2 linked regions of the Homo sapiens genome follow. The protein of the gene in region 2 purifies or fractionates together with the protein of the main gene of each other region. This does not show direct contact. Each region holds a gene or a part of one and is shown on either strand. Other genes may lie near its edges. The genes, in order: SCGN and EBLN2.

The links.
Region 1: the proteins of EBLN2 (region 2) and SCGN purify together in Homo sapiens (affinity purification with mass spectrometry; one large-scale study listed by BioGRID and IntAct). This does not show direct contact.

What each region holds. Positions count from the first base shown.
Region 1 is NC_000006.12:25,650,922-25,655,185, reverse strand, and holds the start of SCGN (secretagogin), read right to left. Parts: upstream 2,972-4,264; 5' UTR 2,783-2,971; coding exon 2,701-2,782; intron 1,805-2,700; coding exon 1,734-1,804; intron 1-1,733.
Region 2 is NC_000003.12:73,060,044-73,064,042, reverse strand, and holds EBLN2 (endogenous Bornavirus-like nucleoprotein 2), read right to left. Parts: upstream 2,385-3,999; 5' UTR 1,962-2,384; coding exon 1,143-1,961; 3' UTR 706-1,142; downstream 1-705. Other genes in the region: PPP4R2 (serine/threonine-protein phosphatase 4 regulatory subunit 2), read right to left, coding at 1-40, 296-370, 2,983-3,020.

The sequences.
Region 1 (4,264 bases), on a different chromosome or scaffold from region 2:
CCATTTATTCCAAGATTTTGAATGGTTTTAACTTTGTCTTTTTGCTTTCCTCAAATACCCATGTCCATGATAGATAAGATGGGTTTCTGGAACACGATGAACCTTACATTTACAGATATAAGTAGAAGCCCTGTGGGCAAGGCTGGTGGGCTTCACCATGGGCTGCTAGCACGTGAAAGTGGCTGGCTAGATTGAAGCAGAAGCCTCACTTGGGGGAGGCTTCCTCAGCTCTACCTGTAGCTTGTGTAGGTACAAGAATGAAGGATAAAGAGGAGTGTGCGCAAGTGGTCTGACCAGAGGAAAGAAGGGACTTGTGTCTCTATCCTTCTCGTCTGCTGATCCTTTCACTTCACAGGCTGCACAGGGTAAGGGGTGGAGTGCAGGCAGACAAAGAGCAATAAAAGGTACAGAAAAAGGGAGATAAGAGACAAAGAAAAGGGTGAAGGAGAAAATGTGGAGAAAAGAAATGAAGGTCAAAAAGAGAGATGGGAAAGAAAGAAGAAAGGAGAAATAAAAGACATGGGGAGAGGAAAGACCAAAAGAGCTTTGAGAAGCAGAGAGACTGGAAAAAGAATGGGAAAACACAGAGACAGAGAGATGGAGAAACAAATGAGAAACAGAGACAAGAAAGATGGGCAACAGAGAGGTCAGAGAGAAAGGCAAGAAACAGTAGGAGATGAGAGCCATGAAACACAGAGATAAGAAACAGAAGTGAGCAGAAAAATGACAGAGATAGACATAAAAAAGAGAGACAGACAGAATATGAGAGGCAGACAGAAGTAGAGGGGGACCAAGAGATCTGTGTGGCTGAAGAAGGCGGAAGCCAGCCCTTTTGTTTCTGAACCAGCTTCCCCTGCCCCCCACATACCCTCCCCATGTTCTCAACAGTGGTGAAGAGCTCCTTGTTCCCTCACTGAGCTCTCACATGAGAATGTGATGCACTTCTATTCTTCAGATAAACAGCTGAATGATAAGGACAAACTATCTCCATCATTCATTTAAATTCAATTGTCCCTAGAGCGTCTCCTTCTACTATGAATGCCCTACTGGAGCTTTCATCAGATCGAGCCCATCCCCAGGCTGTCCTCCGCTCATGTGTTTCTGTGTAAAATTTTTCTCTGCTTTGATAGAGAGACTTTCAAGAGTTCATTTACATCTCCCAAGGACATATTTACCATCAGATGGACACTAGATAGATTGGCTTCCATTTGTATCTGGGCTCTGAGTATGCTGGTTGTTTTCTGGTTTGTCATTCCCTGAAAAATCTGTAACCTCTTCTAATAAAATGAATAATGGATAAATGATTTTAAATGGTTTGTGGTTTGCTATCAGAGGAGTATCATACATATTAAACACCCAAAATCTTAATGTGCTTAACATCTTTTCCAGCTTTTTGAACAAAGTGGGCTACTTTACCCCCAGGTATAAATCAATTAGCAGAGACATAACCAAGGAGACGTTCAAGACCAAGTTAACTGAGTCTACAGTTAGGATCTCTGAGTGGATGACAGATGTTACACTGAAAGTCAGTAACCAGCATGTCTAATGCTACAGTTGCACCTTTTATAAAAACTGCCTAAATCCCTCTATGTTGCTAGGAGAGGGGGAGAAATTACATACATGCAAGGAAGAAAGGAGGTGAGTTGGAATTAATAGGTACCAATCAATATAAGACTTGGATGTGCGTATCTTACTAAGAGGCATAAATTAAGGCTTAGTGTGCAAGTACTTACATCAGTACCCAGTTTCATCAACATGTGGAGAAAGAAAGCATCGAGTTCCTTCTCTTCTATGTAACCTTTTTCTAAATGTGAGAAAATAAACATAAATAATACTAACATATAAAAAACACATGACAGTATTTATCTAAATATGTTTTTAATCTCACAATTCATAAAGCTTCCCTCAACACTATTTTTTGTTATTCCAATAACAAAGTGCCAACACCTACCTCTAGAATACATGGGTTTGAACAGTAAACACTGTTCCAGAATACGTGCTTTATGCTAGGGTTTATATTAGTGCTTGGAAAAGGAAGGCTATTAAGTACATGAATTTTAATCAATGAATAAACGTGAACTTTCCAATAAAATTTAACCCCAAAATTTCTGAAGCTTGGAGAAACTTAACAGGTGTAAGTATTGAATCCCAGTTTGCAGAGTTAAAACACACCTTTTAGATATTTTATTTCTTTATTAATAAAAACAAATATTAAGTAGTTCCATTTTATTTTCAAGTAGTTTTTTGGTGGAGGAGTCGTTTTGAAAGCTGATAAAATTTATTCTCATTTTGAGAGAGTGAGGGGTGTACAGCAAAGTCACTGCGTAAAAGTGAGCCCATTTAGGGAAGGATGACTTCAAATAGCTGAGTCTCAGCCCACAAGCCTTGAACATATACAATGATATTAGTCATTGTATATACAATATATATGTATGTCTACCATATATATGGCGCGCTCGCACACAAAGAGAGATTGGAAAGGGGAAAGTGGAAATTCACCACCCAGAATTTTAACAAGGTATATAGATGTGTATCACCAGTATGCCAAACGTCTGTTAATGATACTGTATTAGGTACACTGCATTAACAACCCAGGTCGATAACTTTTCCTACAGTAAAGGGGAAACTCCAGGTCCTTTCAGCGGGCTGAGCTTGGAGCCACGTCTACACCTGAGTGTGCAAGTGGCTTGTTCTACTCACCATCCGCATCAAAGCGCTGCCAGACCTGCCAGAAGCCAGCGGCGTCCAAGCGCCCCAGAGTCGGTTCCCGGGAGCTGTCCATGGTGTTGACGACGAAGACCAGGCACCGGCGCGGAAGGACCTAGACAACTTTGGGAAGGACTCCTTCACCGTATTTCTTGACTTGCTCTCCTGCTTCTTTCGCTATCTGATTAGCTTTGAGTAACTGTTGCTGGGGAGGACGCGAGCGCTGCTGGCCGTGGCGTCGCTGAGCCGTCCCTCAGCCCTCAGCAAAACCAGCGGCTGGAAGCCCGCCCCGCTCCTGGCGCGCCTGTCCCCGCCCCGCCCTGCGCGCTGTCCTGGCAGATCCTGTCTGTCTCTGCGCTTTGGGGAATTCAGGAAGAAAGAAACTGTCTCCAGGCGTCCACGGCTCACTGCTTTTGCCCTTTAACTTGCTTCTCAGACTCGGAGAAGACATCCCTCTTACGTTTGACTCACTTTCCAAACTTGTGTCTCAAGGGGTTTTCTAGGGAGAGCTGCCTCATTTAAAGGGTTGCAAGAAGTGTCAGTGTTAGGGTCCTTTGGACTTGAGGATTTAGAAATGTAGTGTGTGGAGAGGGGAGGCGAGAAGGGATGGTGATGGTGGTAAGTGGTTCCCTTTAAGGAAGAAGTCAACAGCAATTATTGAGTCCTGATTGTATAGGACATACACATTGCTGTACCAAAATGCACTATAAGGACTTGCAACTAAACAGGGATACTGCAAGTCACTGTGATTTAAAGTAGCATCATTAGGATGCTGAGGAAAATATAAACTAAGCCGTACTCTGCCAGGAAAAGAGAGTCTGGGGGAGATGTGTCTGCCTGCAGGGTACTTAGGTAGAAGGCTTAGATGATTGTGTTTGGCTCCTAAGAGCCACATTAAGACCAAAGGATAAAAATCAGTTGGAGGAACACAGAGCTTTCTAACAATCAGGACTGTTCAAAATTGGGCAAGGCTTTGTGGAAACGTGTACAAACTACACTGATACCTTTTGACTATATATTTAGAAATTTTCGTTGGATAATCTATAGAAAGTGCTTGGATATTAGATAAGAAAGTTGAACCAGATGTAACTTTTCTTTATGGCACCCTGACTCTGGTTTTAGCATTCAGATTTATTTATAAAAAGCATGCATGTATAAGTCATCTAAACCAGAGTAGTGAAAAGAACATGACACTCAAGGTCAGATAGTCCTGGGTCAGGATCTGAGTTCCATTATTTACCAGCTTTGTGAACTGCACCATTAGTTCTCATCTCCCTAAGCCTCAATTTTCTTATCTATAAAATGAGGATTAAAACATCTGTTTTGGAGGGTTGCTGTGAGGATCAGAACCATACATAGTAATGCACAATGAATTATATCTGCTATGGTGTTGTAGCTGATGAGGGATGACTCTGTTAGAGAAAACAAGTAAAGTCTAAGAGATTGTCATAGCCAAGAGGAACCTAATGAAAAATGACAAAGAAATGTAATGTTTTATCCTGGGTGTGATGCCGGAACAGAAAAAGGCCATTAGGTAAAAATTAAGAAAATTTTAATA
Region 2 (3,999 bases):
ATTAAGTGGCCTGGGTGTCCCAGGCCCATTTATATTAGACCTATAATAAGATAAATGAACATCATTTCCTATTTTTATAAAAAGTCATCCCTCTTAAGGTATGTTGATGTGAATACATCACAGAAGTATTTGCTGCAACTTTGTTTTCAGGCCCATGCCTTACCAAATTAACTAATTCTATGTAGTTCATCCTATGGTGTCCATAAAATGCCCAATTTTTAAAAAGTACACTAAGCCTGCTACTCAAAATCAGGACAATGCAAACTCTGTAGGTATTAAAAATCTAGAATCTCACCTCTCAGTATAGCTTGGTGAATTTCCAGGAAACATAACACCATTCATTCGATTTAAACTATTGGAATTGTTTTTCCTATAAGAAAAGAAAATACACTTGTGGATGACTTAATTTTTTTTTAGATGGAGTCTGGCTCTGTCACCCAAGGTGGAATGGAGTGCAGTGGTGCAATCTCAGCTCACTGCAACCTCCACTTCCCAGGTTCAAGCAATTCTTATGCCTCAGCCTCCCAAGTAGCTGGGATGACAGACGTGTGATGCCATGCGCAGCTATTTTTTTTATTTTTAGTAGAGACGGGGTTTTGCCATGTTGGCCAGGCTAGCCTCAAACTCATGACCTCAAGTGATCGGCCCACCTCGGCCTCCCAAAGTGCTGGGATTACAGGCGTTAAGCCACCACACCTGGACTTTTTTTTTTTTTTTTTTTTTTAAATAATGAGAATTAGTTCATGTTAGGAGTGCATGGATCTATGATTCCACCCAACACTCCCCCCTCAAGATCTTACGGGGTAGATGCCATTTGAAGCAAAGGGAGTGTGATGGTTGATCCTGGTATAACATCAGGAGCTTTAAATCCCAAAAATGTGGGGTTGCTCATCTTGGCCCAGTAGTTTGCCGCTGTTGCTAAGTTTGGGAACATTCGTGGTGACAGCTCCCCAATAATGGGGTGGCAAAGTACACCCCCAAACTCAAAATATTTCCCCAATGCCTTTTTAACCATTGTTTTTTTTCTCCTCAAAGACTGGGATCTCAGACACAATGGCCCGTAGAGCAATGGAGCCATCCATGCACTGATCTAGAAACATTCTCACAGCATTAATAGGTTGTCATCTGTGCTTTCTTGGCAACTAACTTGACTTGCGTAGCTTGTGTAGAGGGGATTCAAAGTCTCCAAATAGAAGTGTGAACATTAATTCTCCAACCCATGGTCTTGAGCTGATCCAACCTATGGCTGATTCTGCATTGCAGCTGATTAGCAGATCAGCACTCTCACCATGTGAAAGTCTTCCAATAGATGCCATCATTGCCTTGAATCGTCTCTGAACTTGGAGACTGCTGGTGCAAATCTTATCACTTGATCCAGCCGCAATGCCTATCAAAAGGTCACAGCAGTGGCGGAGAACTGATGACTTCTCAAGGGCAATAAAGTTAGGCATATCTTTGAATCTGCTAGCATAAGGAGTACCCCTTTCCTCGTTCTCATTCCCAACCACAGTATTAGACCTCTTGCTCACACCAACACTCAGTAATGCCTGGTGTAACCCATCAAATATGAAACACAAGAATACTAAACTTGGGGTCACAGGGTGGAAATGAGATTTATGTGCTGGGTCTAGCATAGACTTGGCTGCTTTTTTAATGTCCTTAATATCCCCAATGCTGGGTTGGGGTTCCAATGCATCCAGTGGATACTGTCTGTTTTTCCCAGATAGCTCAAATCTTCCTTGAAGGTCAGGGAGCCCACTCCTGTCCATTGCGTCATCTCCTGGGCTGCTGGGCTGTGAGTCCTTTCTTAGATGAGACATTGTGGAAAATTGGTTCCGACTTAATTCTTTAATTTTGTTAAGAATCATAGGTCTAAAAGATCTTTTGTAAGATCTGTCACAGACCCAAACAAAAAGACTGTGAGAATTAACATAAGCATACAATTTAAGAAAATAACCCATTATTAGTCGCTATGACTTGACTCTGCACTTCTTTACCATTTTTCCAAAATACCTCACGTTCATGAGCAAAACAAAACATATTTTGCTTCATAAAAGAAATTTTTATCATGTATACATTTTAATAGTTTTTCTGTCAAGAAATATAGTATGGGATTATTTTAGTATCTTATTTAGCAACATAACTATATTCTTGGGAACATTCTAAAAACAAATTGACTGGGCTGGGTGTGGTGGTTCACATCTGTAATCTCAGCACTTTGGAAGGCCAAGGCGGGAGGATCACTAGAGTTTAAGGCTGCAGTGAGCTATGATCACTCATCACCGCACTCCAGCCTGGGTAACAGAGTAGTCTATGAAAGCAGAGCCAGATTAACCTTAAACCAATGGTTCTCAGCAGGGGACAACCTCCCCTCCCTGCCTTTCACATCTCCAAGAGACATTTGGCAATGTCTAAAGATATTTGGAGAGGGGAACACTACTGGCATAAGTGGGTAGAGGTCAAGGACAGTGCTAAACCTCTTATAATCCCCAGGACACCCACTCACAACAGAATTATCTGGTACAAAATGTCCATAGTTCCAAGGTTGAGAAATTGTATCCAAATTTAATTCTTACTTTGCTATATCTAAATCTTGACAACTGGAAATATTTTCCATCATAAAGAGAAAAGCCATCAAGTAGTTATTCCAAACATGGGAATTATGCCCTAGAGACACCCTGGAAAGGCATCTAGAATGGCATCTCAGGGCAATGAGTGCCACCACAGTATGTAAATCCAACAATATTAAAATTACAGTAAATCACCAATCTCTTTAATCCAAATCTCTTTAATGGAAAAAACATATAGATAATGTTATTAGTAATATTCTACTTTGGGGACTGAATGGTAGGTTCACAAGTATGTTATCACACTTAATTACATATTAAATAAATTCAGTCTATTTTAAGAATAATATATTAGAAGCAATAAAATGATTAAATATAGTAAATAATATACTAGAAATAGAAAAAATATACTTACTCTGAAGAAGGATAAACACAGCTAACAACCATCACATTCTGCAATAACAAAAATCAGTGATTTAGTATGAAGAAAAGTACTACAACATAAAGTTTCATCATTTTTGTTTCTAAAATCACTCTGGTGGGTTAAATTCCCATTGATTCTAATTTTGCTAGTAAAGGAAAATGGTTAAAAATGAAAACTGGTGAAACAGCAAAAACTAAAACAATAACAAAGGACCAAAAGAGAATATCCTACTCAGCCACTAATTTTTTTTTTCCTATACTTATTTTTTACCCTAATCTAGTTATTCTAGACCCGTAACATCATACACTATACGTAGTAGAGTAACTAAGCTCAGATGGAATCAACAAAGATGTTGAGAGATTGAAGTACTTAAGACATATGTAATTGATTTTCCTTACAAAGCAACACCCAATCCACGGCTTGTTGTGTTGCATCATATATCCCACAGAAAGAGACTCAAACCTTTTTTGTAATATATTTATGATCTTCCCAGTAAAAATAACTTTACTAATATTCAGTGTTCACTGAAAGTTTAGTATGAGTCACAGTAAGTGTTTTGCATTTAATCCCCCTCCCAGCCCTATTATTAACCACATTTTACAGAGGAGAAAACTAACTGGCCCAAGGTCACACAACTATGAAACACTGCAACCCTGATTTAAAGGCAGGGCACCTGGTATGACTACTGTAACATATTGCTACTTTATCTGAAAATCTCCAAAATGTAATTATTACAACTCCTGGAGCTGAAAAGTAAGTACTGATGAGCCATCTCAGTTTCCTGGCCTTTGGGGATATTATTCAATTGAGTGTACAGAGGATCAACAAAATATATTAATCCAGTATGGCCACAAAAACTACTGTAAATCACTATGTAATGGTTTTTGATTCCTGTTCCCAGGGTAAAATAAAGTGGATTTGAACCAGATCCTTAAATGAACAGGGGAGTGTTTCCGGACCAACCATCAACTGAAAATTAGAACTCATTAGTCCAATCTTGGTTCTCAC